4 separate regions of the Homo sapiens genome follow, and all the other regions are linked to region 1. Evidence: fine-mapped expression QTL. A gene starts in region 1. Each other region holds a variant in brackets. All regions are shown on one strand. Distances are from middle to middle.

Region 1 (8,232 bases):
TGTTCCTAACCAAGAAAAATTCTCACCTTGGATGTGATAGAAGTCTGGATCCCACCCCTTTTGATGACTATTTTCAGACAAAGCTTTCTACTGCTACTAGTATCTATTTTCTATTAGTTTCATTATTGGAACTGCAGAATACAAAATTTAAAAGCAGTTTCTAAGGATCTACTAAATATTGAACTCTGAGTTTAAAAATGCACTTTACCTCTCTTTAGCCTACTTTTATATTTAGTAAAATAAAGGGAGACTGAAGAGGCAGAACTAGGTCCCTTCTGACTCTATGGGTCAGTCCAACAAAGGTCTGCAAACAGAAAACTGATGTGCGTATTCTTTCTCCCTGTCAGGTGCTGTCTTTACTTCCTTCTCCTATTCAGCATATATTCCATGGTCTACCACTTCAGCCACTTGCTTGCCCTAACTTCTTTTTTTTTCCCCCCCCCCAGAGAGAGTCTTGCTCTGTCACCCAGGCTGGAGTGCAGCGGCGCGATCTTGGCTCACTGCAACCTCCACCTCCTGGATTCAAGCAGTTCTCCTCCCTCTGCCTCCCAAGTAGCTGGGATTACAGGTGCCTGCCACCACACCCAGCTAATTTTTGTATTTTTAGGAGAGATGGGGTTTCACCATATTGGCCAGGCTGGTCTCGAACTCCTGACCTCGTGATCCGCCTGCCTCAGCCTCCCAAAGTGCTGGGATTACAGGCGTTTGCCACTGCGCCCGGCTCCATAACTTCTTAACTGTGTCTCACTACACTTCTATAACAACCACATGGCAAAATCCCAACCCTGGGTCAATACAACTGCCTACCTTGTGTAATCTCAGCCTTTGGCTGCTGCTGGAAAGTGGGAAGAAAATCACACAACTAAGCAGACTGGTATGACCTGAAATTGAATGTCCTCAACCTCACGTGACCCGCTGTACAACAATCCTTGTTTCCCTAATTCTCTCTCCTAGCCTTCACAGGAGCTACTTCAAACCTTTTACTTGTAAATAACCATATAACCATATAATTGCTCCTTCTCCTTTTTCAAGGCTTAACCCAAATGTCACCTGCTTAGTGCAGATTTTCCTGACTAAAATTTTAAAACTGCATCCCCTTCCTCTTTATTTTCTGCCATCTAATAAACTATAAATTTTACTTATTGTTTTGCTTATTATCCTTTTCTGCAACGACAATGTGAGCTCCACAAGGGCAAGGAGTTTTGCATGTTTTGTTTACGGCTGTATCCCCATGCCTCCAACAGTGCCTGGCACACAGAGAGTGAGGAATGAGTTTCCTCTTTCCCAGGGTCAACATTCTACCCGCCGGGCCATTTTAAACCTCTCTCTATAGGCATCTTCCCACTGGGATTTGAACACACAAAAGGTTTCACTGTTTTAAAAGCTTTCTCTTAATCCCCAACTTCTCCTGTAGCTACCACTACCTTTCCCTCCTCCCCTGGATTGCCAAATTCCTGTGAGAGTTGTCTGTATTTGCTGTCTTCACTCCTTCCTTTCCCAAGTTCTTCTCAATCAACTGCTATCTGCCTTTTGCTTCACCACTTCATGAAATTGCTCTCCTCAAGGTCAATGAACATCACTTTGGGGACACAACCAGTCCTGCTCTGACTCTGCAAGGACATACAAGGGTCATCTAACCCAGATTTGAGGATGAAGGCAGGCTAATATTGCTGCTGACATTGCTGGCAATTCCTTTCTTTTTGACATACTCCCTTCTCTTAGCCTTTCCAGCGTTCCTTCTATTTCTCTGTTCCTTCTCTATTCCCTTTCCAGGTCCTCTTCCTCTGTCTGTCCCTTATGATGTTAGTGTTCTTCAGAGTTCTGTGTAGGCCTCCCCTTCACTTTTTACCTCATGGGTGATCTCATCGCTTCCCTTCTTTTTCAGTTTCCATCTATAAACCGACAGTTCCTGTAATCTGGGTTAGAGATACAGATCCCTCTACAGAGTGCTAGACTATCCAACCATTTAAAAGACATCTCTACTTAGATGCCTCAAACTCACCTCAAACTCCACAACTCCATAGCTCAACTCATCGCTTTGCTACCTCCCACCACTCCCCTGGCCATCTTTTCTCCTCCTGTGTTCCCGAGCTTAATGAAATGGTACCACCACTACTAGTTTACCCTAGCCAGAAACCTGGAAATCATCTTTGACTTCACCCTCTTTCATTTCCTTATCCTCTTATATCTAAATCAGGGTTTCTAAACCTTGGCACTTCTGACATTTTGAGGGCTGGATAAGCCTGTTTTATGTGTGTGTGTTGATGGGGTGGTGGGGGTGCTGTCCTGTGCACTGTACCATGTTAATAGCAACCCTGGCTTTTATCCATTATTTAGGTCCCAGAAGCAACCCCTAGAAGTGCCAGAAGTTGTTACAATCAAAAGTATCTCAATACATTGCAAAATGTACCCTGGGAGGGCAAAATTGCCCCCAGTTGAGAATCACTGACCTGTATCCATCAAGTCCTCCCTGTTTTACCTCCTGAATACTGTATCCCTTAAATTGATATACTTTTCATAATCTCCTCTACCACATTCTCATTTCAGGCCATCATCAGGGTAGATTAATCTACTAGCCTTCTAACGGGTCTCCATACCTCCAGACTGGTCTCCTCCAAATCATTCTCCACAATGATGCCAGAATGACCTTTCAAAGATCAACCCCCTTCCTATAACTCCGCAACATCTTCCTCCCAACCCACCATTAAACATTGTGAAGTTTCACTTTGCTCTTCAGATAAAGACAAATTCCTTCACATGACTTCCAACACACTTAATAATCTGGTCCCTTGTTTACCTCTCCAGCCTCGCCTTTCATCCTCTCAAACTCTATGCACTAGTTAGACAATTTCTGTTAGTTTTTCTATCACACAAACTGAACCTCTCGGGGGGTCTCTCAACCTGGGACATTATTCTCTCCATTTCCTCATCTGATCAACTCCTACTTATTTCTTCATGTCTCATTTCCTCTGGAAAGCCTTCCCTAATTCTTCAGAGCTGGGTTAGATGCTCCTCCCACAAGCTTACAAAATACTGTAAAATCACCTGACCACAGCACGAGGCATTGTAACTGGCTACCTCCTCTGTATACATTCCGCCCTTTAGATTGTAAAATCGGGACACAGACTGTCCCTTATCTTGCTCAAAAACCTCCAAAACAAGGTGCTTAGAAGGAATTATATTTATTTTTTAAAAAATAAAGGAATGTTTACTACAAAAGACACAATCTTTGGAGCTAATTCTCTCAAAAAGTTGTTTCTATATGGACAAGTAAAACCAACAGAATAAAGTGTGTGCCAGATTATCCGTTTAAAAATATCTGGGCAAAGTCTTCATGCTCTGAAAATGTCCACGCATCCCAACTGACAGTGGAATTCAGAGGCAATTCAATAATAGTTTGACCTCAGACCCACTCCCTCCAGCCTATTTTCTGCCAATCTAACAAACAGCTTTCCACAATTATCATTACCTATTTTCTACTAGTTTTCTCATCAGTATCGGTATTAGAGTGTGCAGGATTTAAAATCAGTATCTTGAAGGTGGAGAAGAATCCTTGTAATAAAAGCAGAGGCCACAAAATGTTATTTGTACCAACTACCTGGGTACCTGCAAACATAGGCCAAAGCATTCGGCCCTGTCATTCACTCTTTGCCCCTGGGAACAGCAAAGATACCGCTGGAGCCACTGCCTGTCAGTCCCCTAGGAGTGAGTCTGTCATCAGCACCCGGACCCTGCAGAAAGGCCCGTAGTGGGCGTATCCCCAGCTTCCCCGAGCCCCATCCACACAGAGCGGCCCTGCCTCTGCGAGCTGAGTAGCGATCGGGATCCTCTGCACCCGCTCCACAACGGCGAGGCCTCCCTGCCGGAGCTCCGAGGGGCGGCCAGGTCCTCACCCACCCCCGGCCGCGCGTCGCCGCCCACCTCGCAGTGCAGGAGTTCGGTGCCCGGGTCCTGCCGCCCCGCGATCCGGCAGAACACGCAGGTGCTGTCGTAGTCCTTGGGCTCTGGTGACTTGCCAGCGGCTTCACAGGTCCCCACTGAGGAAACCGTAGTTTCTGCAGTCGCCGAGGCCTCACAGTCGGGGGCCAGGCCGGCGCTGCGGTTCACCTGTTCCTCCGCCATTGCACCCGCCCCTCGCGGCCTAGAGCCTCGGCCTCTCCAGGGCTACCGGGCCCGCGCAGTCTCCGCGTCCCGCACCTCCTCCGTTTTACCTCGAGACGTCGCCCCTCGCCTGACGCTGGGCGGTGATCCAGGCTTTGGGGAGAGGGAAGGAGACGCGGTGAGGAACTTCAAAGCCGGAGGCCGGCCTCAAAACCGGCTGCCACTAGAGGGCGCGCAATGGCGCTGCCGAGAGTCGTCCTGACCCCTGCGCCTCGTTGGTAATGACGCACGACGTCTGCCAAGTCGCAGAGCGCCCAGCGCGTCGTGGTGACATCACAGAGGCGCGGGAGCGTTTGACATAATGGAGCTTGTTGGGTGTTCTGGACAGGCGTTCTTCAAAGCCCATAGTATAGCGTGTCCAAATATTGTATTACGCTGCCGTTTTTTTAAAAAAAAAAACAAAAAGTTTTTTAAAGTTTGATTTTTAAAATTCGTAGGTTTTTAAAGAATGAGCAAAATTCCTAAAGCCTTGTTTTCAACAGACATCATGTTTGCTGCTTTTTCAGCCACGATAATTGTAGGAGTTTAAACTCAAAATGTCCAAAACTGACCTTTACATCTCTGTTGACTTTTTATTGTTGTTAACAGCACAGTTAGATCAAACTAGCGACCTTTTTTTTAATCTCACATTCCTCATATACAAGTAGATGTGGAGTCCTATAGTCAATACTCTGAAATATCCCAGAAATTCAATGCCAGTGCCTCATAATGCCTCACCTAGACCAACGCAATCACCTTCTAACTTACTTATTGATTTTCCTGTCACTCAGACAAAACCTTCTGTAACTATGTGCTCAAAGAAAAAGTACCAGTTCCTTAGCTTGGTGTTCAAGGTGGACTCTGATTTGACCTCAGCTTTTCGTTTTGTGATACTTCCCACTTGCTGAGCATCTAAAACATGCCATATATTTCTCTAATTGTCAAAAAACGCAAGGTTGGTTTTATAACCACCGCTCTAGAGATGAAGGACCAAACTCAGAGTTGCCCAGTCCCACACAACTAATTAATAGTGACAGAGTTTAAGATCAAGGTTTGTCTAACTCCAAAACCCACCAACCTTTTTGACATACAGCACTCCTTTTTTAACACCAAAAAATTTGTTGGACTAGCTCACTATAGTAGTTACACCCTTGGTATTTGCTGATTTAGAAAATACATAACAAATTGGGAATTCAGTAATGATTTTTAATGGATTTATGTTGTAATAAAAAGTGGTTGTATGTGTTTTGAATTGTTGTACATATACATTCAAGACATTTTTCATTCCTTTTTGTAGTTGGCCCGTAGTTTGGGGAACCACTACAATAGCTTCACTGCCTTTCAGCACCCCAAAGCAGAGTTCAGAATCAATACATTAGAGTTTTGCCAAATTTTAGTATTCACAATTTCCATGCCTGTACTACACCTTCACATCACTGCTTTTATTCACACAGTTCTCTCTCAAATATTCTTGTTTCCATCTCTTCACTCCAAATTCTACCTTCCAAGCCACCCCTCCAATGCTACCTCCTTCATGAAATTTTCTTTAGCCAAACTGACATAAGCACATCCTCTTGCAAATTCATATAACAGGTTTTCAATATTTCTCTTGTAGGATTTGTCTCTTTGTATCTTATAGCTATTTATGTACTTATTTATCCTGCTAGGAATTATGTTTCTTGGCAACAAGATTGGGTGTGTGAATCTTCCATAATGCCTAGTACAGTTGGAACAGGAATTAAAGAATATGTAAGCAAAAACTCAGTTGTATGTAAGAAAACCCAGTTCCCCCTGAGGAGGAGAAAGAGGTAGAGTCCTTTAAAAATTAACTGCCTGTTTTTCTATCTGTGGCTAGTGAGCCTTATCTCTCCCTTTCCCAGGCATTGTGAAGACCCTGTTTCTCTAGCTGTGCAGCTGCAAAGTCACTAGACAGATAAACTCAAGTCATAAAATATGTTTTTCCTTGAAAAGTAAGAAATTATGTAATGCATATCTCAATTAAATAACTGTCATTTTTCTTACTTCTGTAATATGCTTCCCCCTGCACAGATCTCCCCCCAACTGCCCCCTGCCCACGAAATGCTTAAAAGGTAACCTGACCCTTTGTTCGGGGCTCAGCGGATGTTAATCTGACTGTGCCGGTGCACCTAAATAATAAATCCTCCTCAACCCCTCGGTCTTTCTGATTCCTAAATAATCCTGCAACACAGTGCTTTGCATGGAGGTAGACATTTAACAATTTTCTAATGAAGAATGGTTAGGAGCAAGGTCACAGCATGAGAGTGTTCAGGTTTCACAGTGTGCAAGGATACTACAGATAAGAGTGTGCTGATTCATATCATACACATGTATTAACTTATGGAAAAGCACATACAGAACTGGAGATTCCAGGCTAAGTTCTGGAGCGGTGGAAAGCTGATTTGTATATAAACCCCCATTGGGTGCATATGGCCACACACATACAGTTAGGAGACCATTCACTTACACACTAGCACACACACCAGCATAAGTTGCATCTGTTCTGACTGCACTCCTAGTGACACCTGAGATTTCTTCTCTCACTTACCTGGGACTTTCCAAGGCTTGCTTCTCATTCCTCAGCTTTGAACTTGATAATTTTCCCACTTTGGAAGTGAGGGGAGCAACATGAAGTACTTGAAAATTGTGTAGACGATGTGTCCTGTGTGGAAGCAGGCAAAAATACAGGCACTTGTATGTACATAGGCAGGACTACTGCCAGTGGGTGTTCTGGATAACCCTCCTGGGGAACAGCCATTCCAGTTCCATAACAATATACTAACTTAAAATCTGCTTGTGAAATCAGGTGCTATTGGCTAACTTCACAGGGCTACCATATGGGCTAGCAGGAGCCCTGCTTCAGAGCAGGCTCTGGAGTCAGACTACTCTACAACTTACCATCTGCAAAAACTTGGGCTATGTTATTTTCCTTTCTCTGCTGAGACACAAATTATTTATCTTCCTGTGCGGAGGTTTTCTGTTCATTCATCTATAAAATGGGGATAATAATGATGCCTAATGCGTGATCATGTTGCATGTAGAGTTGTCACCGATGCTTCAGGTGGTGCTTCACCAGCTGGAAACCCCTGTGGCCAGCAGCCCCTCTGCTTGAGTTTTGCTCATGCCCACTGGGCTTGTTCCACCCACTCGGACCAGCAGGCTGCGCTCAGCTCACACAACCAGCCTTGGATCCCACACCTGCCAAAGGCAAGCCAGGTGCAGAGCAGCGAGGGGTGTGTGTGCAAGCACGCTGTTTGGCCACTGCACACAGCCAGGCATGCTGGCTGCTGCGGAGGGGCAGGCAGCTCCAGGCACCCGCACAGGTGCTGACTCTGTATGAGGTTGCGGCTGGACCAGACGTACCGCAAGCGGCTTCCACTGCGGGCACCAGCATCTGGATGAGGGAAATGTGGTGATGCTGGAAAGCTCAGAGATGCCAGGAACCACAAAGCCCCAAAGAGGGTGTTACAGTATGTCACAGCCCTGGCTCAGGGAGCTCCAAGATCTGGGCTCCAAGAAGGGCCACAGCTCTTCTCTCCTTCACATCTACTGCAGCGCAGCAAGTAGGGGTTCATGTTCGGGGTTGGGGAGTGTGTTTCAGCTGATTTGTGTAAAGACTCTTTCAGTCCCATTGCCCTGCTCTGGCCCATGACTCCTGGGCTGGCCCTGCCCCTCCACTGCTTCTTGTTGCATGGGGTGGCCACCTGGCACCAGCAGAGGGCAGGAAGGCTACAGTGTTACAGCTCTGGCACAGGGATTCCCAAGGTCTGGGCCCCCAGAAGGGTTGTTACGTTTCACTCCTGCAGCCAGTACCATGCCACCGCCTGCAGCTCAGCAAGCTGGCCAGGAAAGTGTTATAGCCCCTTTTAGCTCCCACCCGCAGCTCAATGAACTGGCCAGGAAAGTGTTACAGCTCCTTTTGCTCCTGCCATTTGTCAGGTCCCAGGTTCTTGTCCCACATCCAGGAAGAATGAGGTTAGGTGGACAACTGGAGGGTGAGCAAGGTGGAGAAGAGCTTTACTGGGCAACTGAACAGCTCTCAGCAGGGAGATCTGTAGTGGGTAGCCTTCACTC
Region 2 (8,232 bases), 210 kb before region 1:
CCAATGACATGTCATTCATATCATTAACAGAAATAAGTTTAGTTCTTAGATTTTGACTTGAAATCCCCTGGGTAGTCCCTTTTTACTCAGTATCAACGACTGTTGGAGAAACCATAAAGAACTCCCCCTAACACTGGTTCTGACTACACAGCTTTTCTAGGAGGGCTGAGGTTGCCGGTGTAAGAGAAGGAGTTCCACAGCTTCACTGTTCAGCATTAATATTCACTGATAAAAAGAAATGTGTTTCTTAATATGATAACCAGCTCCTAGTCTCCTGAGGCTCCACTGTAGCTGAGTTTCATGAGGCCCACATCAATCTTCCAAAACACATCTGAAGCCATGCAGTTCACATTCCAGCTATAAATGGGAGACACTGACCCAAGTCCAAACAAAAACAAAAATCATCCAAAACCTCCTCTTTCCAACATCACAGGCTTCTGAATAAAATGTTTACATTCTCCCAGGCTGGAGTTCTTCCAGACAGGGCTGGAAACCAAAGTCACAGTGAATATCAGAGGCTGACTGATTACAAATCAGGAAACCTACCCAGAAACATATGTCCGAGGTGGAAAAAGAAGGCTGGTCTGTTGAGCGTATGAAGACTGGGAAATACACATATGTGCTGTATCACTTGCATACATTTGAGAAACTAATGATTATCCATAGGCACAAATACAGACACACACCATATACACACACATAAGAGCATTGCCTTCTCCTCAAAATTCACTGATTCCCATACTTTATTTTTTAGATAAGCTGAACACACAATAGCAAATTAATGTTTTAAGAACCATAACAGATGGCTGGCAAGATGGCTAGGAAGAGCTCTGGTCTGCAGCTCCCAGTGAGATCAAAGAAGAAGGCAGGTGATTTCTGCATTTCCAATTGAGGTACCCACTTCGTCTCATTGGGACTGGTTAGACAGTGGGTGCAGCCCATGGAGGGTGAGCAGAAGCAGGGTGAGGCATCACCTCACCTGGGAAGTGCAAGGGGTCAGAGAACTTCCTCCCCTAGCCAAGGGAAGCTGTTAGGGACTGTGCCATGAGGAACAGTGCTATCTGGCCCAGACACTATGCTTTTCCCATGGTTTTCGCAACCCACAGACCAGGAGATTCCCTCGGGTGCCTACACCACCAGGGCCCTGGGTTTCAAGCACAAAACTGGGCAGCCATTTGGGCAGACACCGAGCTAGCTGCAGGAGTTTTTTTCATACCCCAGTGGTGTATGGAATGCCAGCGAGACAGAACCATTCACTCCCCTGGAAAGGGGGCTGAAGTCAGGGAGCCAAGAGGTCTTGCTCAGTGGATCCCACCCCCAATGAAGCCTGACAGGCTAAGATGCACTGGCTTGAAATTCTTGCTGCCAGCACAGCACTCTGAAGTCAACCTGGGACACTTGAGCTTGGTGGGGGGTGGGACACTGGTCATTATTGAGGCTTGAGTAGGCAGTTTTCTCCTCACACTGTAAACAAAGCCTCCAGGAAGTTCGAACTGGGTGCAGAACCCACCGCAGCACCATGAAGCCACTGTAGCTACACTGCCTCTCTAGATTCCTCCTCTCTGGGCAGGCCATCTCTGAAAGAAAGGCAGCAGCCCCAGTCAGGGGCTTATAGATAAAACTCCCATCTCCCTGGGACAGAGCACCTGGGGGAAGGGGCAGCTCTGGGTGCAGCTTCAGCAGAATTAAATGCTCCTGCCTGCTGGCTCTGAAGAGAGCAGTGGATCTCCCAGCATAGCGCTCGAGCTCTGCTAAGGGACAGACTGCCTCCTCAAGTGGGTCCTTGACCCCCGTGCATCCTGTCTGGGAGACACCTTATACAGGAGAGCTCCGGCTGGCATCTGGTGGGTGCCCCTCTGGGACGAAGCTTCCAGAGGAAGGAACAGGCAGCAATCTTTGTTGTTCTGCAGCCTCCGCTGGTGATACCCAGACAAACAGGGTCTGGAGTGGAACTCCAGCAAACTCCAGCAGACCTGTAGAAGAGGGCCCTGACTATTAGAAGGAAAAAAAACAGAAAGGAATAGCATCAACATCAGCAAAAAGGATGCCCATGCAAAAACCCCATCCAAAGACCTCCAACACCAAAGACCAAAGGTAGATAAAGCCATGAAGATGAATTAAAAATAGAGCAAAAAGGCTGAAAATTCCAAAAACCCAATGGAAGGAAGCTAAGAACCTTGATAAAAGGTTACAGGAACTGCTAATTAGAATAACCAGTTTAGAGAAGAAAATAAATGACCTGATGGAGCTGAAAAACACAGCACAAGAACTTCATGAAGCTTACACAAGTATGAATAGCCAAATCGATCAAGCGGAAGAAAGGATATCAAAGACTGAAGGTGAACTTAATGAAATAAAGCATGAAGACAAGATTAGAGAAAAAAGAATTAAAAGGAATGAACAAAGCCTCCAAGAAATATGGGACTATGTGAAAAGACCAAACCTACATTTGATTGATGTACCTCAAAATGACAGGGAGAAAGGAACCAACTTGGAAAACACACTTCAGGATATTATCCAGGAGAACTTCTCCAACCTAGCAAGACAGGCCAATATACAAATTCAGGAAATACAGAGAATACCACAAAGATACTCCCTGAGAAGAGCAACCCCAAGACACATAATCATCAGATTCACCAAGGTTGAAATGAAGGAGCAAATGTTAAGGGCAGCCAGAGAGAAAGGTTGGGTTACCCACAAAGGGAAGCCCATCAGACTAACAGCAGATCTCTCTGCAGAAACCCTAGAAGCCAGAAGAGAGTGGGGACCAATATTCAACATTCTTAAAGAAAAGAATTTTCAACCCAGAATTTCATATCCACCCAAACTAAGCTTCATAAGCAAAGGAGAAATAAAATCCTTTAAAGACAAGCAAATGCTGAGGGATTTTTGTCACAAGCCGGCCTGCCTTACAAGAACTCCTGAAGGAAGCACTAAATATGGAAAGGAAAAACCATTATCAGCCACTGCAAAAACATACTGAAATGTAAAGACCATCAACACTATGAAAATACTGCATCAACTAATGGGCAAAATAACCAGCTAGCATCATAATGACAGGATCAAATTCACACATAGCAATTTTTTTTTTTTTTTTGAGGCACGGTCTCACTCTATCACTGGGCTGGAGTACAGTGGCACCCATCTCGGCTCAGTGCAACCTCCGTCTCCCAGGTTCAAGTGATTCTCCTGCCTCAGCCTCCTGAGTAGCTGGGATTATAGGCACCCACCACTACGCCCAGCTAATTTTCTTTATTTTTAGTAGAGACGGGGTTTCACCATGTTGGCCAGACTGGTCTTGAACTCCTGACCTTGTGATTCGCCCACCTAAGCCTCCCAAAGTGCTGGGATTACAGGCGTGAGCCACTGCACCCAGCCAACGATATTAAATTTACATGTAAATGGACTAAGTGCCCCAGTTAAAAGACACAGACTAGCACATTGGATAAAGAGTCAAGACCCATCAGTGTGCTGTATTCAGGAGACACATCTCATGTGCAAAGACACACATAGGCTCAAAATAAAGGGATGGAGGAAGACTTACCAAGGAAATGGAACGCAAAAAAAAGCAGGGGTTGCAATCCTAGTCTCTGATAAAACAGACTTTAAACCAACAAAGATTAAAAGAAAAATACAAAGAAGAACATTACAGAATGATAAAGGGATCAATGCAACAAGAAGAACTAACTATCCTAAATATATATGCACCCAATACAGAAGCACCCAGATTCATAAAGCAAGTTCTTAGAGACCTACAAAAGACTTCAACTCGCATACAATAATAGTGGGAGAATTTAACACTCCACTGTCAATATTAGACAGATCAATGAGACAGAAAATTAAAAAGGATATTCAGGACTTGAGCTCAGCTCTGGATCAAGTGGACCTAATACACATCTACAAAACTCTCCA[C/T]CTCAAATCAGCAGAATATACATTCTTCTCAGCACCACATAGCACTTATTCTAAAACTGACCACATAATTGGAAGTAAAACACTCCTTAGCAACTGCAAAAGAACAGAAATCATAACAAACAGTTACTCAGACCACAGTGCAATCAAATTAGAACTCAGGATTAAGAAACTCACTCAACACAGGTGCAACTACATGGAAACTGAACAACCTGCTCCTGAATGACTACTGCATAAATAACAAAACGAAGGCAGAAATAAATAAGTTATTTGAAACCAATGAGAACAAAGACACAACATGCCAGAATCTCTGGGATGCAGCTAAAGCAGTGTTTAGAGGGAAATTTATAGCACTAAATGCCCACAGGAGAAAGTGAGAAAGATCTAAAAGCAACACCCTAACATCACAATTAAAATAACTAGAGAAGCAAGAGCAAACAAATTCAAAAGCTAGCAGAAGACAAGAAATAACTAATATCAGAGCAGAACTGAAGGAGACAGCAACATGAAAAACCCTTCGAAAAATCAATGAATCCAGGAGCAGGCTTTTTGAAAAGATTAACAAAATAGGTAGACTGCTAGCCAGACTAATAAAACAGAAAAGAGAGAAGAATCAAATAGACAGAATAAAAAATGATAAAGGGAATATCACCACTGATCCCACAGAAATACAAACTACCATCAGAGAATACTATAAACACCTCTATGCATAGAAGTGAATAGACCAATAACAATTTCTGAAATTGAGGGAGTAATTAATAACCTACCAACCAAAAAAAGCCCAGGACCAGACCGATTCACAGCCGAATTCTACCAGAGGTACAAAGAGGAGCTGGTACCATTCCTTACGAAACTATTCCAAACAATAGAAAAGAGGGACTCCTCCCTAAATCATTTTATGAGGCCAGCATCATCCTGATACCAAAACCTGGCAGAGACACAACAAAAAGAGAAAATTTCAGGCCGATATCCCTGAGGAACATTGATACAAAAATCCTCAGTAAAATACTGTCAAACCAAATCCAGCAGCACATTAAAAAGCTTATCCACCATGATCAAGTCGGCTTCATCCCTGGGATGCAAGGCTGGTTCAACATATGCAAATCAGTAATCCATCACATAAACAGAACTAATGACAAAAACCACATGATTATCTCAATAGATGCAGAAAAGGCCTTCGATAAAATTCAACACCCCTTCACGCTAAAAACTCTCAATAAACAAGGTATTGATGGAAAGTATCTCAAAATAATAAGAGCTATTTATGAAAAACCCACAGCCAATGTCATACTGAATGGGCAAAAACTGGAAGCATTCCTTTTGAAAACCAGCACAAGGCAAGGATGCCCTCTCTCACCACTCCTACTCAACCTAGTATTGGAAGTTCTGGTCAGGGCAAACAGGCAAGAGAACAAAATAAAGGGTATTCAAATAGGAAGAGAGGAAGTAAAATTGTCTCTGTTTGCAGATAACATGATTGTATATTCAGAAAACCCCATCATCTCAGCCCAAAATCTCCTTAAGCTGATAAGCAATTTCAGCAAAGTCTCAGGATACAAAATCAATGTGCAAAAACCACAAGCATTCCTATACACAAATAATATACAGAGAGCCAAATCATGAGTGAACTCCTATTCACAATTGCTACAAAGAGAATGAAATACCTAGGAATCCAACTTACAAGGGATGTGAAGGACCTCTTCAAGGAATACTACAAACCACTGCTCAAGGAAATAAGAGAGGACACAAATAAATGGAAAAACATTCCATGCTCATGGATAGGAAGAATCAATATCATAAAAATGGCCATGCTGCCTGAAGTAATTTATAGATTCAATGCTAGTCCCATCAAGCTACCATTGACTTTCTTCACCGAATTACAAAAAACTTCTTTAAATTTTATATGGAACCAAAAAAGAGGCTGCATAGCCAAGACAATCCTAAGCAAAAAGAACAAAGCTTGAGGCATCACACTAGCTGACTTCAAACTATACTACAAGGCTACAGTAACCAAAACAGAATGGTACTGGTAACAAAACAGATATATAGACCAATGGAACAGAACAGAGGCCTCGAAAATAACACCACACATCTACAACCATCTGATCTTTGACAAACTTGACAAAAACAAGAAATGGGGAAAGAATTCCCTGTTTAATAAATGGTGTTGGGAAATCTGGCTTTGCCATATGCAGAAAACTGAAACTGGACCCTTTACTTACACCTTATACAAAAATTAACTCAAGATGGATTAAAGGCTTAAACTTAAGACCTAAAACCATAAAAAACCTAGAAGAAAACCTAGGCAATACCATTCAGGACATAGGCATGGGCAAAGACTTCATGACTAAAACACCAAAAGCAACGGCAACAAAAGCCAAAATTGATAAATAGGATCTAATTAAACTAAAGAGCTTCTGCACAGCAAAAGAAACTATCATCAAAGTGAATAGGCAACCCACAGAATGGGAGAAAATTTTTGCAATCTATCCATCTGAGAAAGGGCTAATATCCAGATGGATATCCACTTTTGATATCCATCAAAAAGTGGGTGAAGGATATTAACAGGCACTTCTCAAAAGAAGACATTTATGCAGCCAACAAACATATGAAAAAAAAGCTCATCATCACTGTTCATTAGAGAAATGCAAATCAAAACCACAAATGAGATACTATCTCACCCCAGTTAGAATGGCGATCATTAAAAAGTCAAGAAACAACAGATGCTGGAGAGAATGTGGAGAAATAGGAATGCTTTTACACTGTTGGTGGGAGTGTAAATAATAGTTCAACCATTGTGGAAGACAGAGTGGCAATTCCTCAAGGATCTAGAACTAGAAATACCATTTGACCCAGCCATCCCATTACTGGGTATATACCCAAAGGATTATAAATCATTCTAATATAAAGACACATGCACACATATGTTTATTGCAGCACTATTCACAATAGCAAAGACTTGAAACCAACCCAAATGCCCATCAATAATAGACTGGATAAAGAAAATGTGGCACATATATACCATGGAATATTATGCAGCTATAATAAAGAATGAGTTCATGTCCTTTGCAGGGACGTGGATGAAGCTGGAAACTGTCTTTCTCAGAAAACTATCATAGGAACAGAAAACCAAACACCACATGTTCTCACTTATAAGTGGGAGTTGAACAATGAGAACATATGGGCACAGGGAGGGGAACATCATATGCCAGGGCCTGTAGGGGGGTTGGGGGACAAGGGGAGGGTTAGCATTAGGAGAAATACCTGATGTAGATGACAGGTTGATGGGTGCAGCAAACCACCATGGCACATGTATACCTATGTAACAAACCTGCACATTCTGCACATGTATCCCAGAACTTAAAGTATAATAAAATATTTAAAAATAATAATAATAAAAAGAACCATAATACCAGATGTACCAGGTGGTGGCTGCCAATGTGTGCCACAGATTAAGTTTTGACCTTTTGACTCACCCCGATTTGTACTTCGATTTCTAAACTTTCTGTACTTTTATTTCTAAACTTTCTGTACTTTTATTTCTTTCTTCTTGCTTGAAGAAAATTGTCTAAATAGGAGTTTTCTGACAGGCTCCTGTCAACCAATCATTTGTTAGCTTCACCTAAAAGAAGATTATTGTTTGGAGATGGAGATGAAGTTCTAATTATCATTAGTCTTTAACACGTTTTATAGCTCTCAGTAAAAGCATATGAGGTCAGAGTGTCTGCTGTTTTCAGTTTGGGATTAAACAGGTCTCGTCATGTCTGTGAGGGTGGTAAGCAGGAGGGTCAAGAGAAAAGGAAGTAATGCTGGTCAAGAGTATATCTGACTAAAGAGACCCCTGGCAAGAGCTTATGCTGAGGGAAGGAGAGTTAGAAACACAGCTACACAGTCACCAGGAGGAGCGAGTAGAACAATGCTTCAGCATGAAGTCTTCCTATTGTTGAGATCGCTGTCCTTCTTACCTCTCCAGAATCATCTCTGCCTTCCTTCTAGTCTCCATGGACTTGAGCATGAGGTCTAGAAAGATGGTGACTCTTCTTTCACGTAAATATATTTTTTGAAAAAGAAAAAAAAAAGAAGCAATAGCAACAACTCTGAGACACTTTGGGTGAGGAAAAAAGTGTGAAAAATAAATTTTTCCAGTATCAGTGAAGTACAGCATGGTCATAGTCCAGTGGGCTTCAGTAATAAGTCTCCCTAAGAGCATATAATCACTTTGTGAGGTGAATTGTGACCTCCAAAAAGACATGTTTAAAGTTCTAATCTTTAATATATCTGAGTGTAACCTTATAAGGAAATAGGGTCTTTGCAGATGTAATT
Region 3 (8,232 bases), 980 kb before region 1:
TCTGGACAGGGGTGAAGATCTTTCCCCTAAGTATTGAAAAACTTGTAACTTTAAATGACTGCGCAGGGGTACAGAATTATGCCTGAGGGATTCCATATAGTTTTAAGGAAGACTACTGAGGTAGCCTTAAAAATAATAGCTAAATTATATTTAGTGTTTCTTATGTACCAGGGACTGTTCTAAATTATCTTTAAATTCTCTCAAAATTCTAAGAAATAGGTACCAGTGTTATCCCCATTTTACAGATGGGGAAATTGAGGCAAGGAGAAGTAATTTGCCCAGTGTCGTATAAGAATGGCAAAGTCAGGAAAAGTATTGGAACACAGTCTTTGCTCCAACCACTGTGTGTGCTGCTTCACTATGCTGCATGACAAACTTTTTGTAGTCAGAAAAACTTTTTACCCCAAGACATTTCATTAGTTAAACAAATGGCCAAAGTTAGATCTCAGAATCTGGGAGTCTTTATTCTCTGGAGTAACTTTCAGCATCCCAGTATCATCTATTGGCAAGCAACCAGCATTTTACACAATCTTCCAGGAGACTCTGAATATTAAAACATGAAGCTTTGCATTTGGTAAAATTTTAAATGTCTAATTTCTTCCTCTCTTGGAGTGAATCACAGGTTGATAGACTACTGATATTCCGAGGTACTTTTTCATCAATTTTATTGCAATTAAGGAGTCCATGGTAAAGTGTTCAGATTCAGAAAATATCTTTAAATCAAATATCATTCGTATGGGAAATATTCGTAGGCACACATCTTTAATTTTGATAAAAAAGATGTAGGCTTCAGTGGGGTGCAGTGGGAATGAACCAGGGTAATCCATAAAGACTCCATGCTTGATACCCTAAAAGTAGCCATCCTTTCAGTGAGGAGAAGCAACTCCCCCTAACTTCTTACTTTATTCTCCCTCTCAACTTCATCTGGCTGTTAATCTCACCCTACTCCTGGTCTTTAATCTTGTTCTAGCATGGGGGTGGAAAAAGTAATCTTTGTTAGTAGAAAGTCCCAAAACCCCACAACAACAGGAGTTCTGTGGACAATGTGAGGAACTGGGAATTCTTGGAAAGATGGGGAAAAAATAGGACGTTTTTAGGATGAATAAGATGCAACCATTTACATGGTTTCAAGTTAGTGGATGAGGAGACAAAAATTTTTTTAAGCTAAAAAAGCAGATTAGTTAAAAATGGATGTAAAAAGAAAAAATGAACAGAACGATCATGAGAAAAAAAGAGGAGAAATATTGCAGGAGGACGATTAAATATAAAAACTATGGAAAAATGAGAGAAGAGGATTAAAGTACAACACAAAAGATTCAAAAGAGGAAAGATTTTCAGTCATAGGCATCTAGTGTTTCAAAGTTGATTTCTGCATGTGCAGGAGAGCTAGATGACTGAGGACTGTACGGTATGTAAGACACCCTCTGTTAGAAAGATTCTCATCCTCTTAAGTTGGCCACAGAAACAGAATTAATGGGCTTGCTGCACCTCTGAGACACCTTTTGTCTCATTCATATTTGCACAAAAGCTAGAAAAAATATATTGGCAAGGACTTCTTAGAGCTTCGTGCTTACTGTGGGTTTGTGCAGGTTAAGAAGGCTGTCTCTGGGGTCTCGCACAGAAACCTGGATGAAAGCAGCTACTGGGAATTTGGCCAAGAGCAAGGTTTATAAGGTTCCAGTGTAGGACATGGGATCTATGCTATTCTACTTGATTAGTGCAATCAGGGAGGTTACCAAGAAAGTTTGCATTTATAGATCTCTGTTGGTGTCATTTGACACTATTTTATTGGGGTTCTTATTTGAGTGTTTTTATCTGTGATGAGGTATAAAGTATGTATTTCATATATGAATTTTCATCTAGGTAAGTTCATCCTTATATAAGCAAAGCCAGCTAACCCAGAACATTTTTCTTGTCCTTGGCTAGTTTATGATACTATTTGTGTTAGTTATCTCATTCTAACTATAGACTGGGTGGGTTAAACAACAGAAATGAATTTCTTAATAGTTGTGATGGCTGGAAGTCTGAGATCAGGGTGCCAGCATGGTCAAGGGCTGGTAAGGACTCTCTTCCTGGCTTATGGATGACTGCCATCTCTCTCTGGTGTCTCTTCTTTTAAAAGCATTAATTCCATCATGAGGGCCCCCTTATGACCGCAGCTAAACCTAATTACTTCCCAAAGGCTCCATCTCCAAAAGCCATCATAGTGGCAGTTAGGGCTTCACCATGTGAATTTGGAGGAACACAATTTCAGTCCATAGCTCTACTCTTAGGAGTGTCATCTCCCTCCCTGCCCTATCATGTCCATAAAACTTACTGAATGAAGGTGCGGTAGTTATTCACTATTATATTATTTGGAATGGTAGGACTACAGACAGACTCGAGAACAATGTTTTCTTTAAACCAAGAAATATTTATAGAGTCAAAAAGTGTAAGCTCTTCCCTTGAAGAGTGAGTTCTGCCATGTCAGCAAGAGTCCAAGCAGTATATGCCTTCCAATGTATCTCAAAACATTTTTTTTCTTTTTATTCTGTGCTAGCAACAATGGTTTACACAGAACTTTGTATTTTGTCGCATTTTATTTGGAGCATTACAATGCAACATCATTGATAAATCTCTGAGGATAGTTGACCTTTGAGGTCATTGATGGGCATATTCTATGAGTCAATAAATTAATAGAATACCAGGCCAGGCATGGTGGCTCACGCTTGTAATCCTAGCACTTTGGGAGGCTAAGGCGGCAAGATCACAAGGTCGGGAGATTGAGACCATCCTGGCCAAAATGGTGAAACCCCGTCTCTACTAAAAATACAAAAAAATTAGCTGGGCACGGTGGCACACGCCTGTAGTCCCAGCTGCTCAGGAGGAGGCTGAGGTAGGAGAATCGCTTGAACTCGGGAGGCGGAGGTTGCAGTGAGCCAAGATTGCACTACTGCACTTCAGCTTGGTGACAGAGCAAGACTCCATCTCAAAAAAAAAAAAAAATTAATAGAATATCTGTTATAATGAGCTTGGTATTATGAAGTATGAATAATATTTTCCTCAATACTATTACTGCAATTAATAGTTCTAATTTTGCTATTGTACACTAGAGCAGTCTTATTCACTAAACTGCTTTTTGAAACTTTTTACCATATTATAGGCATGGATGGCAAACACAACACTTACATGTGATAACATACCATTCTATAGTTTAAAGAATAATGCTACATATCTTATAGGTAATTGAGACCTATCAATTAAATTCAATAGTTGCTCATTATTCACTTGGCTTTACTTTACAATCCTGGTTGAATATCTGTTAATATTTTTCTCTATATATATTGAAAATGATATATATACTTACATGCAGATACATAATACATATATGCATATATATGAATATATGTGTGCATGTTTATACATATATATACAAAACACCCACATATATGTATCTACATATATGCACATATGTGTAAATGTATGTGTGTATATATACATGAACATATATACATATATGCATAAATACACACATACCTGTACCTATTGTATTAGTCCATTTTCACACTGCTATAAAGAACTACTTGAGACTAAGTTGTTAATGAAGAAAAGAGGTTTAATTGACTTGCAGTTATGCAGGCTTAACAGAAAGTATGGCTGGGAGGCCTCAGGAAACTTTCAGTCATGGTGGCAGGTGAAGGGGAAGCAAGGACCTTCTTCACAGGTTGGCAGGATAGAGAAGCTGAGCGGGGAAGTGCCACACATTTTTAAACCATCAGATCTCGTGAGAACTCATTCACTATCACAATAACAGCATAGGGGAAATCTGCCCCCACGATCCAGTCACCTCCCACCAGGCCCTTTCTCCAATTCGACATGAGATTTGGGCAAGGACACAAATCCAAACTATTGTCACCTATCTCTAGTGTTTTAAAACTAAAAATAACATTGTTTATTGCATATTTCAGGGCACTAGTGACAGTTAAGATGGAAAAGTTAAATATGAATGCTTATCTTTTCTCTGTTCTTCTTCCACTGGTACAATATTAATGCTGTGAACTTAGTTTGTCCAACATCTAACACATTTCCTGAGAGCAATTAAAGAGCCACAAGGGAGTAATTAAAGAGCCACAAGGGATACAG[T/C]GTACTTAGAGAAATGGGGTTGGGCAGAAACTGAAGGATAAGCGTTGCACGTACTGTTCACTCTTCCTGGAATACTTTAGTGTATCTGGAATATTCTATATCTTCTCCCCTTTCAGTCAGAATTAATTGCTATCTTTTCTGTTCTCTGGGGCCTTATAAATTGTGAATTATTGAATTCATTTTATTTTTTAAAATACGAATTCTCTGATTTTAGTATGTAAATTTCTTTATTACCTATTAAATAAGAGTTGTTAATTGTGTCATTTAAAGCCTCTGCATTTTTATTTTTTGTATACTGTTGATTTATTATGGGCATATTATTCTCAAATTATAATACTATATTTTTTCATATATTTCTATGAGTTTGTCAACATATAGCTATGCTGTCATAGGCATAAAAGTTAATTTGTTTGTCTGCTATATACTATCTCATTGTAAATAGCATATAGCTTAATTTTAAAAACTAGATCAGCTCTGTATTTTAATGTATCACTTTAACACTTTAACATGCTTTTTTGGTGATTAAATATCACCTTTATCATCTCCCTATGTTAAAATCATTGGAATTTTTATTCCAGAATTTGATTCCTAATTGATTTCTTTAAGCTACAGTTCAGCAAGTATTTAAAATGGCTTTCTTGGTTTCTTGACTCACCACTTTTTCTGCTAGCCTGCTTCTTCCTACTCCTTGGGCTCTTTTTCTCCTGTGTTATACTTGAGTAATTTTCTCAGAGAACTATGGTTGGCAAACTTTCTGACTCATTACACATTTCTAAATGTTGCTATTTTGAATTTCAATGTAGTTAAGTATTTTAGGTTCAAAAACAGTTGTTTTTTTCTTAATGATAACATTAAAGATATAGCACCATTATCTTCTACCTCTCAGTATTGCAAAGGAGATAATTTCTTGTTCATCTGATTTGTGGGTTGCTTCTTGTAGTTAACTAATTCTTTTCCCTCCTAAATCTTGTAGGATTTTCTTTTCATCTTTGAATTTCTAAAACTTCAGTATGGTGGCCTAGGTGTTTATTTTTATTCGTCTTTCTTGGCACTCTAAGACCTTTCAGCTGTGCAATTAGATCCAAAATTTTCTTCTTTAGTTTTCATGATTTCTTTGTCATTTCTCCCATTCCATTCTCTTTGCTCTTTTTAGAACTCCTATTAAATTGATGTTGGAATTTCTTTTCTTTGTCTATTGACCTTTCTCTTATCCTCTCCACTTCTTTGCTCTTTAGTGTTATGTTCTGGGAGATGTCCGTGGTTCCATTCTCCAGCTCACAGATTTAGCATCTGGCTGCACCCATTCTCTATTTAATCAATTTATAGAGGGTTTTGTTTTTGTTTTTCCATTTCAACTACCTTAGTTTGTATTTCCACAATCTTTATTTGATATCTTATCGATACAGAATTCTATACTAAAAGTTTATTTTCTTTATTGTATCTCTTTTTCATTATTGTTTTCTTTTTTTTGTTATTTGTGTGAAGTCTCTTTGTTTTGGTTTTCATCAAATTATTAGTAATTTTGTTGTTTTATTAATATTTTTTGAGTACTCTGCCCACCTCAGTATGGGTTCTAGTTATATTTAATCATAAACTGCTTTTGTGATTTTGGGTGAAAGATAAAAATATTTCAGATTTTGTAGACAGCTTTCAGACCTCTTTCCTGTTTTTCATGAGCTACTGCAGATTCGTTATCTAAATATAAATATATTTTTTATTTCATGGCATTTTAGACAGAAGAGCAGTTGGACATACATGTTCCTTCTTCCATATTGCTCCAATCCTCTTTTCATAATTGGAAATTGTTACAATAAAGTTTATTTTATTCCTTCTCTTACTGTATTCATAGATAGATATCAATATAGAAATTGTTAGAGAGACAGATACAATTTTTCTTTGATTTCATGGTATTTTAGGCATAAGAATAGGTGGAAATGTATGTTTCTTTCTGCCATATCGATCCAATCTTCTCTTATATTTTTAAATGGTTAAAATAATGATTATCATGTTCCTTCTTGTCTGGATTACAAGCTCTTAAAAGTGTAGATGACATCTTATTCTTCTGTGCATTTTGTACATGTCTTGCCCATGATGTCTGTTTGGTAAGCTTTTGCTGAACTGAAGGGAGGTAAACAGAATGTTAAAGAAAAAAGTTTCCTAAGCACCAGAAACTTTGTTTATTAACTCCAGGCTAGGCATGAATCACCAAAGGGTCAGAAAGAAGAATTATGAAGTGTTAACATTTAATAAATAGTACAATGGTGAAATCAATCAAATACTCACTTGAATCAATCATTTTCTGTGATTTTTAAAATGTGTAAATAGGCAACTTGATCAACTGAAGTAATCACGTATTTTAATTCAAGGGTAGAATTTTTCATACTTGAATCAGATTATCTTAATATCTTTAATTTTCCTCACAGGTCCTTCTCACTAAAAGAAAATGTAAGTCACTAAAATTATGTCTCAGTTTATAATCATTTGAACTCTTTCCACTAGATCCAATCATGAATAATTTCCTCCATGGGTGAAAGAAGAAAAAAATCAAAACAAAACCTCTGTTCTCTTCTCTTTAAATCTTCTAGTTTGATTTATTGCTATACCAATCTGAATGAATTTTAGATAATTACAGGAACAATGGGAGTGACTCAACATTTACATGGAAAATTTCTTCTGAAATATAATGATAAATAAAAAGAAAGTCTCCTTTTAATTAATACCTACTCTGGGATGTCCCTCCTATATAGTAAAGTTATTTAAACTCAGAAAAGTTTACCTAACAAACATAAGGATGACTAGTATCAAAATAAAGAGAAGAAAATAGTAAGTGTTTGCAAAGAAGTGAAGAAGTTGGAGCCTTTGTGTACATGTGTTGCTGGTGGGAATGTAGAATGGTGCAGCCATTGTGGAAAATAGTACAGCGATTCCTCAGAAACTGAAAATAAAGTTACTAACACAATCCAACAATTCCACTTCTGTGTAAATGCCCCAAATAATTAAAAACAGGGACTCAAACTGATATTTATACACCCATGTTCATCACAGCATTATTTACAATAGCCAATAAGTGTTCATGGATAAACAAAATGTGGTATACACATAGAATGGAATGTTACTCAGCTTTAAAAAGTAAGAATATTGTGACACATGCTACAACATACGTGAACATTGAGAATATTTGGCTAAGTGAAATAAGCCTGTCACAAAAAGACAAATACCATGTAATTCCACTCAAGGATTGCTTGAGCCCAGGAGTTCAAGGCCAGCCAGGGAGGCATGGTGAAAAGCCTGTCTCTATAAAAAATAAAATAAATAAAATAGCCAGGTGTGGTGAAGCACACCTGTGGTCCCAGCTACTAAGGAGATTGAAGTGGGAGAATTGCTTGGGCCTAGGAGGTCGTGGCTGCAGTAAGAAGCCAAATTCATAGACAAAAAGTAGAAGTGTAATTGATAGAAGCTGAGGAGATGAGGGAATGGGAAGTTGTTGCTCAAAAGATGTGGAATTTCAGTTGGAGAAGATGAAAAAGTTCTGGATATTGATAGTGGTGATGGTTGCAGAACAAGTTATGTATTGAATGCCACAGATCTGTATGCTTAAAAATGTTGATATGGTAAATTCTATGTAATGTATATTTTGCCACAAAGGTTCAGGACATGACTTTAATCTGTGATGGTTACAGAACAAGGTATGTATTGAGTGTCACAGATCTATACACTTAAAAATTGTTAAAATGGTAAGTTCTGTGTAATGTATATTTTGCCACAATTAAAAACAAGGACCAGGAGGGTTAAATAATGTTCTTAAGTTCTTTCATTGATAAGTAGGAAAGTGAGAATTTCAACCCAGGTACATGTTCATTCATTCAATCAGCAAATTTATTAAGTTCCTACGATATGCCAGGTACCATGCTAGTGCTGGGATAGATCAGAGAACCAAAGAAAGATCCCTGGCCATGTGTAGCTTAAATTCAAGTTGAAGGAGAGAGACAATAAACCAAAATAATTAAAGTGTAAATTATGTGGTCTGTGAGAGGCTGGTAAGTTACTGATAAAAGGAAAATTGAAACAAGGTAAAAGAACTTAGGATTGCCAGTATAACTGACTTCTAAA
Region 4 (8,232 bases), 53 kb before region 1:
TCGGAAGGCTGAGGTGGGAGTATCGCTTGAACCCAGGAGGTGGAGGTTTCAGTGAGCTGAGATGGTGCCACTGTACTCCAGTCTGGGTGACAAAGTGAAACCCTGTCTCAAAAAATAAATAAAATAAAATAAAATACAAATACAAATATAGGAATTAAAATAATTGTATTAAAAATATATCTATGTCAGATTGAAGAAATAACCTACTGAGCTTGGCAATACCTTTCAAATTTAAACATTCCATCTTGTTCAAACGTCTTGTCTTTTACTGTTAATATATATAGCTTTATATTTAATAGTTACTGAATAACAAAACTCAAAGCAATAATGCTGAACATAATCAGGGCTTTAAATATATGCACAGCTCTTATTTTGGTCTTAGCTTTTGATTTATTGTACTTAAGATAATCATAATAGCCAATATATATTAAAGCTAGCATTAGAAGGTAGCAGAAGCGTGAATCCTTTAGCTAAGCTGTTGAAAATTACATCTATAGACTGGCAAAAGAGCTATAAAACAGCTGTGATCCATAGGTACTAAGCTAAGTGTAGGGTACAATAAGGGCTGGCAAAACTTTTTCTATAAAGGGCCAGAGAGTAAATATTTTAGATTTTGTGGGTCACATACTGTATGTTTCTGTCACACATTATTTTGTGTGGATATTTTTTAACAACACTTCAAAAATCTAAAAACTAGTCCTAGCTCAAGAACCTTATAAACACAGGCTGAGGACCATATCTGGCCCATAGGCCGTGGTTTGCCAACCCCTGATATAAAATAACAAGGTCAAAACAATTCAGTTGATGAAAAGAAGGAGGCTGAGTACAGTGGCTCACTCTTATAATCACAACACTTCAGGAGGCTGAGGCAGGTAGACTGCTTGAGCCTAGAAGTTTAAAACCAACCTGGGCAACATAGTGAGACTCCACCTCTACAAAAAATAAAAATAAAAAATAGCTGAGCATGGTGACGCATGCCTGTAGTCCCAGCTACTCAGGAGGTTGAGGTGGGAGGATCACTTGAGCCTGGGAGGTCAACGCTGCAGTGAGTCACGATTGCACTACTGCACTCCAGCCTGGGTGACAGAGCAAGACCTTGTCTCAAAAAACTAAATAAATAAAAAGACTATTTTATACACATTTGAAGGCAAACAAAGGCTATTACAAATTAAATATAAAGATGCACCAAATGCAAGAAGAGATAAAGAGAAAATTATACTAGATACGCAAACATTGTAAGAAAAATGAAATTAAAAATAAAATTAAGATTACATACTCTGGCGTATACACCGGTAACCAATAGACTAGTCTTCCACCTAAAACGAGGGTCTCAGCTGCGAAGTTTAACAGGTCAAGAAACATATCACTCAGATGATAACTCAAGGAAACAGGAACATGGCTTTCTGGACTACACAAAGAAAAGAAAATTTCAAAATCAGTGAAAAATTTTAAGAGTGCTAAGTTAACGGGGAAGCCACATGCCTCTTCTCAAGGTAGTAACACATCATATTTAAATTTCACTTACCATTTTTCCCATTTTTCTATCCCCTTTGGTATCTCCTTCTGTGAACCTGTTCTTCTTGTAGATTCTCTGATACCATATGGAGCTAGACAGAAAACAAAGGTAACACAGATAGTCAAAAGTCACCAAATCATGGATCAAGGGCAAACAGCCATGCTGCCTTCAAATGTGACACCCTGAGAAGAACACAACATCACCAATGCACAAATCCAACTGAAAATGTACAACATAAAGACTTGGGAGAGGAGCAACTGTCTTCTTAAAATATGTCAATGTCATAAAAGTCATTGAGAAAAGCTGTGGAAGTGTTACAAATTAAAGGAGGCCTAAAAGATATCATTACGAAATGCAATACCTGACTCTAGAGTAGATCCTGTCCTAGAGGGAGAATATATGCCATAAAAGCTATTACTGAGTCAGTTGACAAAACTGAATGGCAAACTGTAGATGAAAGTATTTTATCAATTTACTGAACTTGATAACTGTATTTTTGCTAAGAGACTATCTTTATTCTTAGTAAATACACACTGAAGTATAGGAGTAAAAGGCCACAATGTATACCACTTACTCTCAAGTTGATCGGAAAAAAAAAATGTATTTTATATAAGTAAACACAGAGTGGGAGAGCAAATAATAAAGCAAACTGTTAATTTAAAAAAAACTAAATTTTCATAAAGTATATTCACACTGAAACCATAAGGCCTTGATAATTTTTCTTTTGTTACATTACATTTGACAAAATCTAAGTTAGTAAAGAACTAAAGAGAGCTGAGATAGAAGGGCTGAACTTTGCCACTTTTTACAGATTTACTGTCAAATACTATAGAAAAGGCAGATCTATTCTTAGATAGGCTGCCTAAAAAACTCACGACCTCATGAGGCATGGGAAAATAAATTTTCATGCACATTCCTGAAGCTCAGTAGGTTCACAGGCCCAGTGGTTCCACAGAACCCCAAATTTCTTGTAATGCTAGAAAGGAGATGCCAGTGAAAACAGGCACTACAAAAACACAAATGCTTACACATAGAGAAATGTGTGATATCTGAAACTCTGTTCAAAATTTGACACCATAATTGCAAATGACATGTGAGCTCCAGTTGGTATAATAACCAATTATAGTCAATACAAAAACAAATACTAAATATATGCCTCAAAAAAATAAGCTGAAGGGAAAAACGGGTGACAAGTTAATATAAAAGGATATAACAGGGGATGGCAAGCCAATATATTTGTTTAAAAAAACAAAACAGTAAGCCCTTAACAAGGTAGTTAAGTACCTTCATAACTTTCTCCTTACAAGATGAAGAAGCTGGGGGTAGATGGGAGAAATACTGACAAGTTGGCATTTTGTGCATGTGTTGGTAAATTTTGTACTTTAAATGTAAATGATTTTACAAAACGAATCCTACTCCTACTTTTGTATAAAAATAAACTTACGATCAGTAATGATTGCATCAAAATATGTGCCCTTCCTCCAGGAAGGTTTAGATGCATCTGAAACCAGGACATCAAGGTAATACTTCTCTAAACCATATTGACGAAGATTGGCCCTAATGTTTTCATCTGGTCCTCTCCACTTCTGGTTTTTCCTAGTAGCCTTTCCTGAAGGGAAAGAAAAAGGAAGAGAGAAAGTATTAAACAGAGTATTCTTATTTTCTGTCATTTAGGAAAAGTAATGTTTTAACTCACTGAAACCTACATTTATTCAAAATTTGCTTTCATTTAAAATCTTAATTTTATGTATACAAGTAAATAGTTATTTTAATTTCAACATAACAGTAAAATGTACTGATGTCTAACTTATCTTGTTCTGTCAACTTCCAAGTAAAACTGCCTTAAAACACTCATTCGATATTTTCAAGTACGAAGATTTTTGTAGTAAGATAGAGTTGAAGAGAATATGGTTCCTTTCTTCCAGCAGTAAACAGTCCTGTGTAGAGATAGTATGAATCAGATAAATGAAACAGAAATGAAGAGAGCGAACTTGGGAAATGCCGCAGTTGTGACCATGA[G/A]GAAGGGAGGCAAAATGGAGACATTGCTAATGAAAGTTAAAGTGGGAGTGGAAGGAAGGCTAAAGAAGCTCGTAAGTTCCTTGTTTAGGAGACATGATAGTTTAGGATGATGACACCAGTGATTAATATCAGAGAAACCAGGAAGAAAAACAAGCTTAAGAAAAAAGATTAGATTCATTTAAGATATATCAATCTTGATGTACCTTGAGGTACCTGCAGAACTTTCAGAAAAAGATACGCAGTGGGGACATTCAGCAGGTAGTTGAAGGCCAGAATATACAGACTTTGGAGTTATCAGCATATAATCTTATACTGACTCCATAAGGCTGAATAACATTCTTTTTGTTCACTTAGGAGGCAGTTACATGTTTGCTCTATAATTATTCTTATAAAATCAAAAGAAGAACGACATGACTCTGAAAAACATGCAGTGTGACGGAGAAGTGCTCAAAGATAGGTAGACGCCTGGAAAAAAACAATATATAAACATAAATCAAAGAAAATTGCAGGGCATCAAGTAGACTGAGAAGAAACAAAAAAGTAAAAGTACCACCTGCCAAGACCACTGTCAAGGAAACCAAGAGCAGCTGTATGAAGGTCAACACTGTCAAATGCTATAAATCTGTGGCCTTTGTTAGCGTTTTCAACAGAATGATAGGCACAGAAGCTGGAAAATAATGGCCAGAAGAGAGTGAAAGATGAAGAAGAGGAGACAAGAAGTTATACTAGTTTTTCAAGAAGCATTTTGGCAAATGGAAAAGGAAAACAAAGTGGTAGCTAGAGAACCTCTACAGATTTGCCAAAAAAAAAAGTTTTGTACTTTTAAAACAGGAGAAACTTGAGAATATTTTAGGATAAAGTAAGAGTTCAGAACCACAGGAAACAGAGGGTATACCTAACAGTATCTTGGATAAGCTCTAAGGGAACTACCTCAATCAGAATTCTACCCCAGTAGACTGAAGGTTACAACATAAGTTTCCAAACATAACTTTAATAAATAAAAATTCAAGTAAATTATATAAGACAATTTCCTTAAAAGAAATATACTGCTTCTACTAAAAGCAAATTGGAATAATTCTTAGTACTTTTTAAAACAGATTTCAGATAAAGAATATCTTTTTCTTGCTAGCCCATTTATATACACCTAATAAATTATAACTCATTTTCCTAATAAATGTTACTAAATTCTTTACAGTCAAGGTAGGGAAAAAGACAGGTCACCAGTACAAGATATCAAATTACTTCCACAAAAGAAAATAAAGTATAATAAATGCTCACCAATACAATAACTTATACTGGGTGAGGAAAAGGAAAAGAGTATTATAAGGGCTGATCCCAGTTATTATAATGAATACCAACATAAACACAAATAATCTCAAAATCATCAATAAAATGACATTTTCAATACCATTAAGCTATAAGGAAATACTTTTTCAGTTTGATTCAATTCCATCCAATCACACATCATTATTGAAGCTTCTAGAGTTTAAAATATTTTCCATAATTACCTGAAAAGTAAAGCAGATGACTGTTTCAAGTACTCTCAGTTCAAGGCAGAATCTTTAAAGTTACTTTAAAGAGGTTTTGGTCAGTTATAAAATTAGAAACATAAATAGTACCTCAAAGACTAGTTATTAATCCAGTATATAGTCAATGTATGATTAGTGAATAATTTTGGTGATAATCTTTAAATGAGTGGTGATAATCTTAACCAAATATGTTTCATTATCATGTATATTTATTAATTAGTTATAATTAATAAATTATAGGTCTGAACTGGTCACTGGGTTATCACTTTCCTGCACTTCCTTAAAGCCCTCTGAGAGCAGGACTTTTTCTCATTCACCTTCATGTTCCCCCAGGAAATCACTCTGTACACAATGGATCATAAAAGTAGATACCCAATGAAGTCTTATAAAAACAAGTAAAATTATATCACAATTTTGTATTTGAAGATTAAAATAATGCCATATAAAACTACAGTTGACCCTTGAGCAACATGGGGTTGGGGTGCCCACTCCTCACACAGTCAAAAATATGCATATAACTTTTGACTCCCCCAGAACTTAACTACTAACAGCCTACTGTTATACTTACTTTATTCAGTAAAAATAGATTTACTATTCATGAAGTGGAAGTGGATCATCATAAAGGTCTTCATCCTCATCACCTTCATGTTGAGCAGGCTGAGGAGGAAGAGGAAGTGGAGGGATTGGCCTTGATGTTTCAAGAGGGCAGAGATGGAAATAAATCTGAGTATAAGTGGACCTGTGCAATTCAAACTTGTGTTCTTCCAGGGTCAACTGTATGTTTAAAGGTACATTTGGCACCACAGCAATGACTATAATACTGTCTATAATCTCTACTCACCCAAGCCATGAACTGTGTTGTAGTCTATGTCTGTCCCATACACATATGCACCAAAATGAGCACATGCTATCAGCAGGCCACCTGAAAAATCACACAATTTTGACCTGTTAACCAGTAAGTCCCAAACTCCTGTTTGTTCCTATTTAACTTCATCCAGTCTTAGAAACTAGCTGCAGGCAGAGTATCCTGGAATGACATTGGTCGTAACATATTTAGTAAGCCTCAGGACTGAAAAAACAAACCCCTAAGCTATAGTCACTAAACTGGTAACAAAGTAGAGAAATTAATGTATACCCTGGCATCATTATTTTAAACAGCACTATTTTATCTTTTTTTTGGTCAAAATAATGTATATTTAGACATTTTCATCTTATTTTTAGAGCTCTACACAAAAACATTTTGCTCCTTTCTTAAAAATGAGCATATAAGGCTGTTTATACAAAGAGCTGGCAATAAACAGAATAAATTCTGATGACTAGGCTCAATTCCCACTGAAGTCAGAGTTTCAAACAAATAGGGCATAATTACTATGTGAGACATTAGTTCTTACAGAAATTAAAAGGTTAGGACATATTTTAATTTTTGTAAGAATTAACTATTTTAATATAGTTACTCCTGTAACCAATCAAGTAATTATCTCCTGTTTTAAACTGTAAATACAAATTTCTGAGTAACTATTATCAAACATGCACAAAATAATTAATAAACTGTTTTTATTAGTGCTGTGACCAAAGTAAGAACAACTGTCCCAATACAATCTGACCAGACAAAGTAATGTGACAGATGTGACCAGCTCATGCATGAAGAGAAATCTTAATAAAGGTTAAAATAATAATGAAACTCTTTAAAATGAAAGGTAATACTATTTTTAAATTAAGAAAAAATTGTACACAATTAACTGAACTTTTAATAATTGTACTTTTAATTAAATTCACTTTTTTTAATCATTCAAATTAAAATGCTTTTAGTGCTTGGGCAAGTCTTAATTAGCTATACTCTAGGAAGGCCTGCTAGTCAAGCTGAAATCATAAATATATTCTTCAACTACAAAATATGCACAGACTTGGACAAGGGGAAAAAATACTGGGGCTCTTTCCCTTATAACCTTTTGAGATGTAATCTCTGTAACTAAGATGGGTAGTGCCTCTGGAGGGTCAAGATCCATAAATTAATGATGTTCCTTCCATAGCCATTTAAAACATAGTCTGGTAGCATGGAATTAAAAATACTTTGTTCATGAAAATATTATAACTGACTAGTTCTTTTTAGAACCCATGAAGAAGAGAAATGAAAGACTAAAAGTACAGCAGAAACCAAAACCTATGTCCTCTCATACTAACTACAAAAAGCATTTATGTGAGAGGGAAGGTTAAAAAGTCCTCATAATTCTGACTCTGGAAATGGAACATTCCATATTTAGAAAAAGCAGCATAAGTGATGACTTGGAATACTCACAAAGTCACTTCACCCAAATTACAAGGAATTACTACAATTCTGCCAATTAAGGCAGATACTCACCTAGAAGAACTAGTTGTCAAGGGGAACAGAAAAGCTTTCCTGTGCTTCCTTAACAGAACCTTATCCATTTGGTTAGAGTGAGTTTTGAGAAGACCCAATTTACAAGTACACTGCTGAAAGGAGATGAATAATCTGTTAGACTGCACCTGATACTTAACTTCGTGCCCTTTAAGCTTTTATTTTTTTTTAAATAAAATCATAATAAATTAGCTTATCTGAACTGGTCACTGGGTAATCATTGGTAGTCATCTAGTTGTTCTTTTGATTAAATTGAAGCACTTTTTACATTTAGCTATACCTCAGTTGGAGTTTTTTAGGGGATCTTTTTGGTGGAAGAAGGGGTGCTAAAAAAAAAAGGAGAGTGAAGTGTCAAGGAGGCAAGTAACATGACTCACCCATTTCTTTTTGCGTTACCAAAAGTAAAAATACTGCATATGTGATCTATGCTAGCAACTCGGTGTTTCAATTTCTCATTACTTAAATAGTAAGCACTTTAAGGTTAGGGTAGTATCTTACAGGCAAAATAATACAATAAGAATTGAATTTATTCCATGATGTAAAAACTAATTCATGATTTTCATCTTTAAAGAACTAACTGGAAAGCTTTGCAAACGTGGAGAAATGAGAGACTGGGCTTTGGTTTTGCTGAGAGAAAAAAAAGAAAGAAAAATGGCAATATTATTGCATCTATTTTATCTTTTTTAAAAAAAGAATTCTACTTAAATAAATTAAATTAGCAGGCCGAGCAAAAGAATACTGCTAGACAATGGGACTCCTACTAGACGAACCATGGGATTCCAGGAAAAGGG

What was found. PIP is the estimated chance that this variant, and not a neighbour inherited with it, causes the effect.
Region 2: its variant is the best candidate, but not a certain one, in a credible set for the expression of HINT3 in whole blood (TOPMed, PIP 0.87).
Region 3: its variant is the best candidate, but not a certain one, in a credible set for the expression of HINT3 in whole blood (TOPMed, PIP 0.71).
Region 4: its variant is the best candidate, but not a certain one, in a credible set for the expression of HINT3 in subcutaneous fat (TwinsUK, PIP 0.74).

Annotation. Positions count from the first base shown.
Region 1 is chr6:125,952,868-125,961,099 of GRCh38, reverse strand. HINT3 (histidine triad nucleotide binding protein 3) reads right to left here and starts at 4,330. Exons shown (of 5, transcript NM_138571.5): 1 at 3,922-4,330. The coding sequence starts at 4,122. RefSeq lists enhancers at 3,108-3,157, 4,218-4,317 and a silencer at 3,828-4,047.
Region 2 is chr6:126,160,143-126,168,374 of GRCh38, reverse strand. It overlaps a transcript of TRMT11 not described here. Among named protein-coding and RNA genes, the nearest start is that of CENPW, 180 kb to the left of the region's middle. The variant C/T (reference allele first, on the strand shown) is at 3,913.
Region 3 is chr6:126,934,212-126,942,443 of GRCh38, reverse strand. The region is part of intron 7 of LOC105377989 (a long non-coding RNA gene); the gene reads left to right. Among named protein-coding and RNA genes, the nearest start is that of RSPO3, 180 kb to the left of the region's middle. The variant T/C (reference allele first, on the strand shown) is at 4,123.
Region 4 is chr6:126,006,146-126,014,377 of GRCh38, reverse strand. It overlaps TRMT11 (tRNA methyltransferase 11), which reads right to left. Exons shown (of 13, transcript NM_001031712.3): 8 at 5,906-5,986; 9 at 2,961-3,125; 10 at 1,526-1,607; 11 at 1,277-1,408. Among named protein-coding and RNA genes, the nearest start is that of TRMT11, 24 kb to the right of the region's middle. The variant G/A (reference allele first, on the strand shown) is at 3,536.